Linked DNA regions of Homo sapiens: region 2 is linked to region 1. Evidence: fine-mapped expression QTL. A gene starts in region 1. The other region holds a variant in brackets. All regions are shown on one strand. Distances are from middle to middle.

Evidence for each region.
Region 2: its variant is fine-mapped to the expression of NTAQ1 in thyroid (GTEx, PIP 0.98).

What each region holds. Positions count from the first base shown.
Region 1 is chr8:123,414,597-123,419,971 of GRCh38, reverse strand. It overlaps NTAQ1 (N-terminal glutamine amidase 1), which reads right to left and starts at 3,198. Exons shown (of 6, transcript NM_018024.3): 1 at 3,040-3,198. The coding sequence starts at 3,122. It also overlaps a transcript of ATAD2 not described here. RefSeq lists silencers at 2,460-2,509, 2,830-3,029, 3,140-3,619 and an enhancer at 2,432-3,026.
Region 2 is chr8:123,449,664-123,455,038 of GRCh38, reverse strand. It overlaps a transcript of NTAQ1 not described here and the pseudogene LOC124902105. Among named protein-coding and RNA genes, the nearest start is that of NTAQ1, 36 kb to the right of the region's middle. The variant T/G (reference allele first, on the strand shown) is at 3,196.

The DNA of each region.
Region 1 (5,375 bases):
TTACCCATGTAACAAACCTGCACATGTAACCCCAAATCTAAAATAAAAGTTGGAAGGGAAAAAAACTCAAACAAAATATGTGATTGGATAATATCTGAAATGTTCTTTAAACTCTAAACAAAAGCATAAGGGACTCAAAAAAGGGAGAGAGGGAGGGAGGGAAGAAAGGAATGAAGGAAGGAGGGAGGGAGGGAGGGAAGAAAGGAAGGAAGGAAGGGAGGGAGGGAGGGAGGGAGGGCTGTGGATTTGCCCCAAGCTGTCAGCTGATCATCTTGGCAGCAGAAAGGTTGGGACACTCCAGGGGTTCCCAGTGATGAGCTGAGGTCAGAGATGCATGCAGATGGGGAGGACCCCTGGCACAAAGCAGGCACTCCACAATTGTTTGAAAAACACAAAACAATTAAGTCAGAATCAGAAATGCTCTGCTGACGACACAGTCCCAAACAAATACTGGCTGCCACTATTATCATTAAGCAGGGTCTTGAAGCGTAAGTAACATCTGGAAGCTAACATGACGGAAGCTAACAGAAGTAGACAGGAGGCATTCATTTCAACTTAAAAAACCTGCAGGATGGCCGGGCACGGTGACTCACACCTGTAATCCCAGAATTTTGGGAGGCTGAGGCAGGTGGATCACCTGAGGTCAGGAGTTCAAGACCAGCCCAGCCAATGTGGTGAAACCCCGTCTCTACTAAAAATACGAAAATTAGCTGGGCATGGTGGTGGGTGCCTGTAGTCCCAGCTACTCAGGAGGCTGAGGCAGAAGAATGGCTTGAGCCTGGGAGGTGGAGGCTGCAGTGAGCCAAGATGGCATCATTGCACTCCAGCCTGGGCAACAGACTGAGACTCTGTCTCAAAAAAAAAAAAAAAAAAAAAAAAAAAAAAAAAAACCCCCAAAGCTGCAGGAGCCAAAGTAGTGTGGTGTCCCCACCTGATGTGTTCAGACAGGGTAGAGCACTGGTTCTCAGCAAGAGGCGATTTTGCCCCCCAACCCCTACAGGACACTTAGCAATGTCTGGAGACATTTTTGGTTGTCATAACTAGGGCTAGGGTGCTAACAGTATCTAGTGGGTAGAAGCCAGGGATGCTGCTACACGTCCTGCAATACACAGGACAGCCTCCATAGCAAGGAATTATCATGCTCAAAATGTCACTCAAGCCAAGATGGAGAAACTCTGTGGTAGAGTGGTCATCTCTTACCATTCTTCTACAAGACTGCTCTAACTCCAATACTCCAGTTGTACCAGCCTCCTCACTGTTCCTATCACACTCACAGCACCATTCCTTCTCAGAGCCTTTGTACCTGCTGTTCTCCCTGCTTAAACAACCATCCTCCAATAGTTGCAAAGCTCCCACCCTCTTTTTTCAGATCTCTTTTCAAATATCACCTTATCAACAATGTCTTCTCAAAATATCCTAATAGAAGATAAGTCACCATCCTTTATCTTATTTTTCTCATAGTATTTAACATCACCCAAACATGGTTTACTTGTTTTTTTGGCTTTTTATTTTTTTTTTTTTTTTGAGATGGAGTCTTGCTCTGTTGCCCAGGCAGGAAGGGGCAGTGGCATCAGCTCACTGGAACCTCCACCTCCCAGGTTCAAGCGATTTTCCTGCCTCAGCTTCCCGAGTAGCTGGGATTACAGGTGCACGCCACCACACCTGGCTAATTTTTGTATTTTTAGTAGAGGCAGGGTTTCTGCATGTCGGCCAGGCTGGTCTCAGACTCCTGGCCTCAAGAGATCCGCCCACCTCGGCCTCCCAAAGTGCTGGAATTACAGGCGTGAGCCATCGCACCGGGCCTTATCTGCTTTTCTCTCAAAATGAAAGAACCAAGGGATCCATGAGGGAATTTGTCGATTTTGTTCACTGCTATATCCCCAGTGCCCAGAAGTATGCCACATACTCCAAGTGCCTAATAAACATTTATTGAATGAATGAATAAAACAATGACTGGACATTAGGGAGGAGAACTAACGGGATTTAGAAGAGAGGCAGGACAGAAAAATAGTGCAGTAGTTAAGATGCATGAACTTCAGAATCACGAAGAGGTTCCAGTTTCAGCACCACCACTTGCTAGATGTGTGATTTGGGGGCACAGAACAGCCTCTCTGTGGCTCAGTCTTTTTATTAGTAAAATGAGGATAACGATAATAAAAGAAGGTACCTCCTGGACATCGATGGAAGCACCTGCCACTGAGCCTGACATGCAATCAGGGCCGAACAAATGTTAAGCTCTTGGTGGCATTGGTTTAGTGACCAGCAGAAGGGGGAGGAGTAGGTTTAGATAGCACTGAGGTTTCCTGTACAAGGACTAGAAGCTGGGGAAGAAGCCATTACTCAGGAAAGAGTAGGTATGAGGACTAAGGCAAGGGCGGTACTTCAGCTGCAGAGGTGGCCTAGGACAGGGGTGCACTGCGTGGATTCCGGGGCCAGACCCTGACTGTAAATCCCCACTCCTTCATTCACAAGCTACGTGGCCCTGCGCAAATTACTTGCAGCCCTCTGTGCTTCAGTGCTCTCATCTTTCAACTGGGGATAACAATACCTACCTCTTACGGTTATTGTGATGCTCAGTGATTTAGTTTACCTAAACCACCCAGAACAACGCGTGGCATATAGCAAGTGCTGTATGAAAAACTCTCCGTGCCTTCATTCTCTTACAAAATTAAAATGACCTTCACCTCAGTCTGAAACCCCACAGGCTTCAGCAGAGTAACCCCCAAAGATTTTCAGAGCTCCACCCTTCCTGGCCCCGAAGCAGAGATCTGCTGAGCAAATCCAACCGACAAGCGCCAGGCACAGGTAATGCACTATCGACCCTATGATTCCGGACGAATTCCCAACCCCATCCAATAGCCCACGCTCTACTCAAGAGACGAGAGCTGCCATTCCCGCTCCCTCCTCCCGCAAAACTGTAGAACCCGCCGGTAGAGGCCGGGAGCGCCCCCGAGGAGGGGCCGGGAAGAGGCGGGGCCCGGTTGCGACTCGCCGCCCGGGAGCCTGGGAGACCCAGAGGCTGCGCCCGCGCCCCCTCACCAGTAGCAGCTGCTGTAGACGCAGGCGTCCCGCGGGGGGCTGGCCGGCTGGTAGTGGACAGCAGCGGGGCCATTACCTTCCATGGCCGGCTAGCTGGGCCAGGGCCCGGGCCGGAGGAAGACCGACTGGACCAGACGTAGGAAAGGGCGGGCTTGTAGTGGCCCGCGTGGGTTCCCGGCGTGGGGTGGGCGGAGCCCGGGGGGAGAGGGCCGGGGCAGTTTCCGGGTGGTGGGGCCAGTAGCGCGGTGGGCGGGGCCAGGGCGGGACTAGCAGCACGAGTTCCCGGCGCGGGAAGCCCGGGACGAAGTAGGCGGAGCTCGGGGCAAGCGGCGCCAGTTCCTGGGAGGGTGGAGCCCAAGCGAAGTGGGCGGGTCCGGGGTGGGGTGAGTGGCGCGAACTCCCGGTGGGCGGAGCCCGGGACGAGGAGGACAGCGCGCTTCCGGGTAGGCGGAGCCCGGCTGGTGGGTGGGGCCCGGGATGGGGCGGGACTGGAGGACCGGGCTCTGGTGGGCGGAGTCAGGGGCGGGGCCCCGGTGAGCTTTGGGAGAAGAGGGGTCTCTGGCGGCGGCTTGGGGAGGAGCTAGGTTTGGGCTTGGAGTTGGGCCCTGAATGGCGCTTTGCTGTGAATCTCCGCGGGGAGGCTCTTCCAACCAGGGGCTGAGCTTCTGCGCTGTGGAGAAGCCAGGTGAGACACTGAAATAACAGAGGTTTGGGTGTGAAAATCCACGCTTCTGCACTCAGCCTGGAGTCTGCGGGAGCCCAGAGAAGAGGGGAGTGGAGGTTAATTCCAATATGACCGCATCGAGGACGCTTTCCGAAAGGGATAGCACCCCAAATCTCACTCTATTGTAACTTAATCTTTTAAATTGGAAGGCCTGTAGCTATTGGCTCGAAAAGATATATTAATTCCCTGATACAGTAAATTTGAAAAAAAAAAGTTTAAAGAGTCCATATGGTATCCTTTTTGTGTTAATCATATATTTTGTTCAATTACTGGCAGTCTGGAAGAAAAGACACCATATTGTTAAAATAGTGTTTAGGGCCGGGTGCGGTGGCTCACGCCTGTAATCCCAGCACTTTGGGAGACCGAGGCGGGTGGATCACGAGGTCAGGGGTTCGAGACGAGCCTGGCCAACATGGTGAAACTCCGTCTCTACTAAAAATACAAAAATTAGTTGGGCGTGGAGGCGCGCGCCTGTAATCCCAGATACTCGGGAGGCTGAGGCAAGAGAATCGCCTGAACCCGGGAGGCGGAGGTTGCAGTGAGCCGAGATGGTGCCATTGCACTCCAGCCTGGGCAACAGGGTGAGACTCCGTCTCAAAAAAAAAAAATAGTGTTTATCTCTGGTGAATGAATGATATTAATATCAGGGACTTTCAGTTTCAAGGTCTTTACACTTTACAGTCTTCTGAATTGTTTATATTTGCAATGAGCATAGCTAGCTAATCAGGGTACTTCCCATTATAAAAACTGAGATGTTTACATTGATTTTAGCCATCCACAGTTGGATTCTCCAATCTCTTCAGTCTCAAAGCTGATAAATCCTAAAGACTTGGAGCACAGTTCCTGTGTCAATTACCAATTTTATTGCCTCTCAGCTCCTAATACAAACTTCCACATAGCCTCTATGCTATATAACAACTCTGGTAAACATTTCTCCTTTAAAGTGAGTGGGAAACCCTATAAGCTAGAAGGGATTGGGGCCCTATCTTTAGCCTCCTCAAACAAAACAATTATCAGCCAATAATTTTGTATCCAGCGAAACTAAGCATCATATATTAAGGAAAGATACAGTCTTTTTCAGACAAATGGTGAGAGAATTTGCCACTACCAAGCCACCACTACAGGAACTGCTAAAAGGAGTTCTAAATCTTGAAACAAATCCTGGAAACACATCAAAACAGAACCTCGTTAAAGCATAAATCACACAGGACCTATACAACAAAAATACAATTTAAAAAACAACAAAAAAAAACAAGGTACACAGGCAACAAAGCACGATGAATGGAATGGTACCTCACAAGTCAATCCTAACATTGAATGTAAATGGTCTAAATGCTCCATTTAAAGTGAGTGGGACAGGTGTAGTGGTGAGAACATCCTTGTGGAGTCTGCCCCAGCCCCAGACTCAGAACATGGTCCCTTCCTAACCTTGCAGGTTTAGCCTGGCAATAACCTTTCTTCAGCCTCTTGACACAAAAACCAGGGTCCTCCCTAACCCTACCTTCTATACGGTAAGGTACTGAATAGAGTTTCCTTATGTGTTATCGTTATGCCTTTATCATAGTTAATAATAATTTTTTGGTGGGGGACAGGGTCTCCCTCTGTCACCCAG
Region 2 (5,375 bases), 35 kb before region 1:
AAATGGAAGACAGGTGACTTTTCCCCTCCCTTGAATAAACACTTCTTCCACACATGGATTTCCTTTTCCTAATCACCATGCTTCTGCCAGCAACTTACCAACTCAATGAATGCCTCATCCACTGCCACAACGCCAGACACCCACATTGCTTCTGATCACAAATCCATTCACAGCAAAAGAAATGGGTCCATATGCTGGTACCCCCCAGATGCTCTGATCTTACCGTGGTCCCCAGGGGTAGGTGATCTTCTTGATGGTAGAATGAATGGCCCATTGGAGACTGAGCTACAGTATCCGCTGGCAGACACCACCTGGTGACACTGGGGTTCTGTCCCATAAGATGTAGTAGATGCTCTGAACCAGTGACAGTACTGCCAGAGTTCACAGGTCTGGGCACCAAGGCTAGAAGTGAGTGCATCTCCGACTGCTACACCTGAGGTCAGGCGTTTGAGACCAGCCCGACCAACATGGAGAAACCCCGTCTTTACTAAAAATACAAAAAAATTAGCCAGGCATAGTGGCGCATGCCTGTAATCCCAGCTACTCGGGAGGCTGGGGCAGGAGAATTGCTTGAACCTGGGAGGTGGAGTTGTGGTGAGCTGAGATCGCACCATTGCACTCCAGCCTGGGCAACCACAGTGAAACTCCCTCTCAAAAAAAACAAAACAAAACAAAACAAAAAACAAAATTGCATCCATTTATTATCAAGGGAGCAATTATAGCAGAACTTCACTATGAATGACTGTTTCTCTAGATGTTTGTTTCCCGTCTCCATCACTTTGAATCAAATGCCTTTTGGATTCACGTAGCAAGCAATTTCTGTTCTCTGCCGCTGAGACCTGACTGGGATGCTTACTAAACCAGAACCACTCAGGGAGGTTCTGGACATTTGCCTTTTTAACAAGTTTGACATTTATTGATAAAGTTTATTTGCAGTAACTACAGGGTAAGTTACTTCAGGTGGACAGCTGTGAAGGACACTTCATCCCGACCATGGGGAAGCTCAGTGACCCACTCCTGCCCTACAACAGACAGCACCTTGCTAGTGACCCATTATCTGATTACAGAATGTGGGCATGAACTTGGAACTGGGTGAACTGGGAATTGGATGGCAGCCAGGCCCTGGAGTGGGAATGCCTAGATTCAAATCCTGTCTCCACCACTCACTAGCTATGTGGCTTTCTATAAGTCACTTTACTTTACTGTGCCTACGTTTCCTAATTTGTAACATGAGGAGAATAATGGTATCTACCTTATATTGTTGTTTTGAGGATTGAGTTCATACACATGAAGAGCTTAGATGAGCTATCTGGGGCCAGGCACGATGACTCACACCTGTAATCCCAGCACTTTGGGAGGCCAAAGCAGGCAGATCACCTGAGGTCAGGAATTCGAGAGCAGCCTGGCCAACATGGTGAACCCGTCTCTACTAAAAATATAAAATTAGCCAGGCATGGTGGCAGGTGTCTATAGTCCCAGCTACTCAGGAGGCTGAGGCAGGAAAATCACTTGAACCTGAGAGGCAGAGGTTGCAGTGAGCTGAGATCGTGCCACTGCACTCCAGCCTAGGTGACAAGAGCAAAACTCTGTTCCAAAAAAGAAAAAAAAAAAAAGCAACAAAACACTTCACCTTTCGGTGTATGAAATATTCTCTTCCCTGCCAACACACACACAATCTCATTTGAGCCTCAAAATAATTCTTAGGTGAGGCAAGGAAGGCCCAGAGAGGTTAAGTGACTTTCCCAAGGTCACACAGTATGTCACTAGCAAATGCAAAACTGTAACGGGGGCCAAGGACTTGAACTTATTTTTCCTGTATTCCAGGGGCAGGGACAAGATCTCCTCAGCATCTGGCCCCAAGGAGGTCAAACATAGCTCTGCATCCTGTGGGCCTTGAGTGGGAACTGATTCAACCGTCACTTACGGCTGCAGAAACAGCGTGTGCCAGAACGGTGTGACTGTATTAACATCTTGCCCCACAATTTCCTTCCAATGTTCTTCCCAGAAATTGCTCTAAAACTCCAGGTCCCCATGGAAACCTCAGGAGAGATTGCCTATTGACTCTAAGTGAAGTTCTGCTATGAGTGCTCCCTTGATAATAAATGGATGCAATTTTGTTTTTTGTTTTGTTTTGTTTTGTTTTTTTTGAGAGGGAGTTTCGCTCTGGTTGCCCAGGCTGGAGTGCAATGGTGCGATCTCCACCTCCCGGGTTCAAGCAATTCTCCTGCCTCAGCCTCCCGAGTAGCTGGGATTACAGGCATGCGCCACTATGCCTGGCTATTTTTTTTTTTGTATTTTTAGTAAAGACGGGGTTTCTCCATGTTGGTCGGGCTGGTCTCAAATGCCTGACCTCAGGTGATCCGCCCGCCTAGGCCTCCCAAAGTGTTGGGATTACAGGCATGAGCCACCGTGCCCAGCCTTTTAAAATTTTATTTTTGTGTGTGGAGACCGAGTCTTGCTGTCACCCAGGCTGGAGTGCAATGGCTCGATCTTAGCTCACTGCAACCTCTGCCTCCTGGGTTCAAGAGATCCTCCTGCCTCAGCCTCCCAAGTAGCTGGGATTACAGGCATCTGCCATCATGCCCAGCTAATTTTCATATTTTTAGTAGAGACAGGGTTTCATCATGTTGGCCAGGCTGGTCTTGAACTCCTGACCTTAAGTGATCCACCGGCGTTGGCCTCCCAAAGTGCTAGGATTACAGGTGTGAGCCACTGTGCCTGACCAATAAATGGATGTTATTAAAAGCCTGGCCTGAACAGATACCTGCTGTAAAGCTCAGGGCCAAAGCCACATTCTCCCTGGACTGCCAGGGTAAAAGACATAGTTCATTCTCTGGTGCTAGGCTGAGTGGTCAGCTTGGAGCAAAGGGGAAAAGTATACTGTGAGCTCCTGCTCTCAATATCAGACACTAGACATGGTGCTTTCCATATCTGCGTTTGTGACAAGAGGCTGGAATGAGGTGCCTGCCAAGAATGTGAGAGAACTAATTAAATAAATCCATGGTGTTCTTTGCTCTCTGCAAAAGTCATTCATAACGTGCTTTTCACACCAAAAGGTGGAAGAGTAGGGCTTGGAGTTAAGGCTGAAGGGACTGCAGACAAAACCGGTTTGAAAAAGGACAAGATCATCTAAAAAAGGAATAGAATCTAGTCAACGGGAATAATTCAAAGCACAAGACTTTAGCAGCAGTTTTC[T/G]AGCATTATCCTGAGATCCAGTGGAGTGGCGGACTTGATGTTCCAGACCCCTTTGGTGACAGGAGTTGTTCCTTTATTGAATGCTTGAGGAATATTTGTTGAGTGCTTACTATAAGGTATCAGATACCAAGACACTGTATTACAGTGGAGAATAAGGCAGGGAGGACTCACAGTCCAATGGAGGGAGATAGAAAACAGACTTTTAGACCAGGTGTGGTGGCTCGTGCCTGTAATCCCAGCATTTTGGGAGGCTGAAGTGGGCGGACCAATTGAAGTCAAGAGTTCGAGACCAGACTGGCCAACATGATGAAACTCTGTCTCTAATAAAAATACAAAAATTAGCCAGGTGTGGTGGCACATGCCTATAATCCCAGCTACTTGGGAGGCTGAGGCAGGAGAATCCCTTGAATCCAGGAGGCGGAGGCTGCAGTTAGTCAAGATCACGCCACTGCACCCCAGCCTGGGTGACCGAGTGAGACTCCATCTTAATTTAAAAAAAAGGAAAACAGACTTTTAAACAAATAAGTGTGCAAGATCATTTCAGTTAGTGATAACTGCTATGAAGAAAAAAGGGTACTGTCATGTTGACTGGGGCAGTCAGCTCTAGATACGTCACCAGGGAAGAATTACCAGACTCGGAGCTCAGACCTCAATGTCAGGCAGTGTCAGCCAACAGAAGATAAGGGAGAAAAAAAGGGTCAGATCAGGGTAAACAGAATGTGAGGTCCCTGAGGAAGGAATGAGCTTGTCCTGCTCACCAAAAGAAACCTAACGGGGGAAGCAGGACAGGGAATGGGCCAGCAGTAGCAGAGCTGAAATCACAGAGACAGCCGTAATCCAGACCACACAGGGCCTGAGAGCCAGGGTAGAACAGTATATTTAGCTTAAGGACATGCTGAGGCCATTGCAAAGTGGTGGTGGTTTGTTGTTGTTTGAAAACGGGAATGAGATAGTCTGGTTTTTAACAGATCACTCTGTATGAAGGAGACATGAAGCAGAAAGAAAAAATAAAGATCACTTTGGCTGCTTTGTGAAGAAAACACTGCAAAGTGGGAAGAGGTCAAGGAAAAAAAGCAAAGAGTTATTGGAGTGGTGCCTGAGGCTTCCCCATGACCTGGATGAAATATCCCTGAAAGTTATCCAGCTTTCTTTCCTCTCTGTCAATGCTGAAGAAGGGCTGCATGAACCAAGGGATGGATCGAGTCAAAGGGAGCGTCCTACAGAGTGAGAACTGAGGAGTGTTTGCCCTGCTTCAGAGACAGTGGCCCTGGAGGACAGACAGGTTTTGATGTCATGAGAGGTCTCCTTGGAGGGGCAGAAATGGGTAATTCGTTCTTCAAAATGGAAGAATCAGCTGACAACCTGGCAAACAGCAGTCTCCCCTGCTGACCCACATCCTCCTGCAGTACCACCCCCTTTCTCTGCCCCCTTCCCAAACCACTCTACTTCCTTCCTCCTGTTCCCTCCTGAACCTACTGAAATTAGGCTGTCATCCCCATCACTCCACTGAAATTGCCCACAGACCTCCACAGTGCCAAAACCAACGGTCATCCCAGTCCTCAACTTACTCAACTGATCAGCAACATCTGACAGAGCTGATCCCTCTCCCCTTCTAATACCACTTTCTCCTTTGGGCATCCTTGTTTTCTCCTCCTTCCTCCATGACCATTCCATCTGTCTTCCCATCTCCTAAGCCCTAAATAAAAGCTCCCTAGGCTAGGTCCCTGGACCTTTCCTCTATCCACACACATTCTCTCAATGATATCATAGAGGCCTGTATCTTTAAATGTCATCTATTAACAGATGTCTCCCAATTTGATATTCCTATCCTACATCTCTCCACTTGACTCTGGGACCCCTTTATCCAGCATATATATATATATATATATATATGCACACACACACACACACACATATATATATACACACACATATATACATATGGAGAGATAGAGAGAGAGAGAGAGAGAGAGAGAGAGAGAGAAAGCAGCGAGCCAGAGTCTCACTCTGTCGCCCAGGCTGGAGTGCAGTGATGTGATCTCAGGCTCACTACAACCTCCGCCTACCACACCCGGCTACCAACTCCTATTTGACAGCTCCTGTTAGACATCCAACTGGCACCTCAAATTTAACATGCCCCCAGTAAAACTCCTGATCTTCCTCCCCAAAATTACTCCACC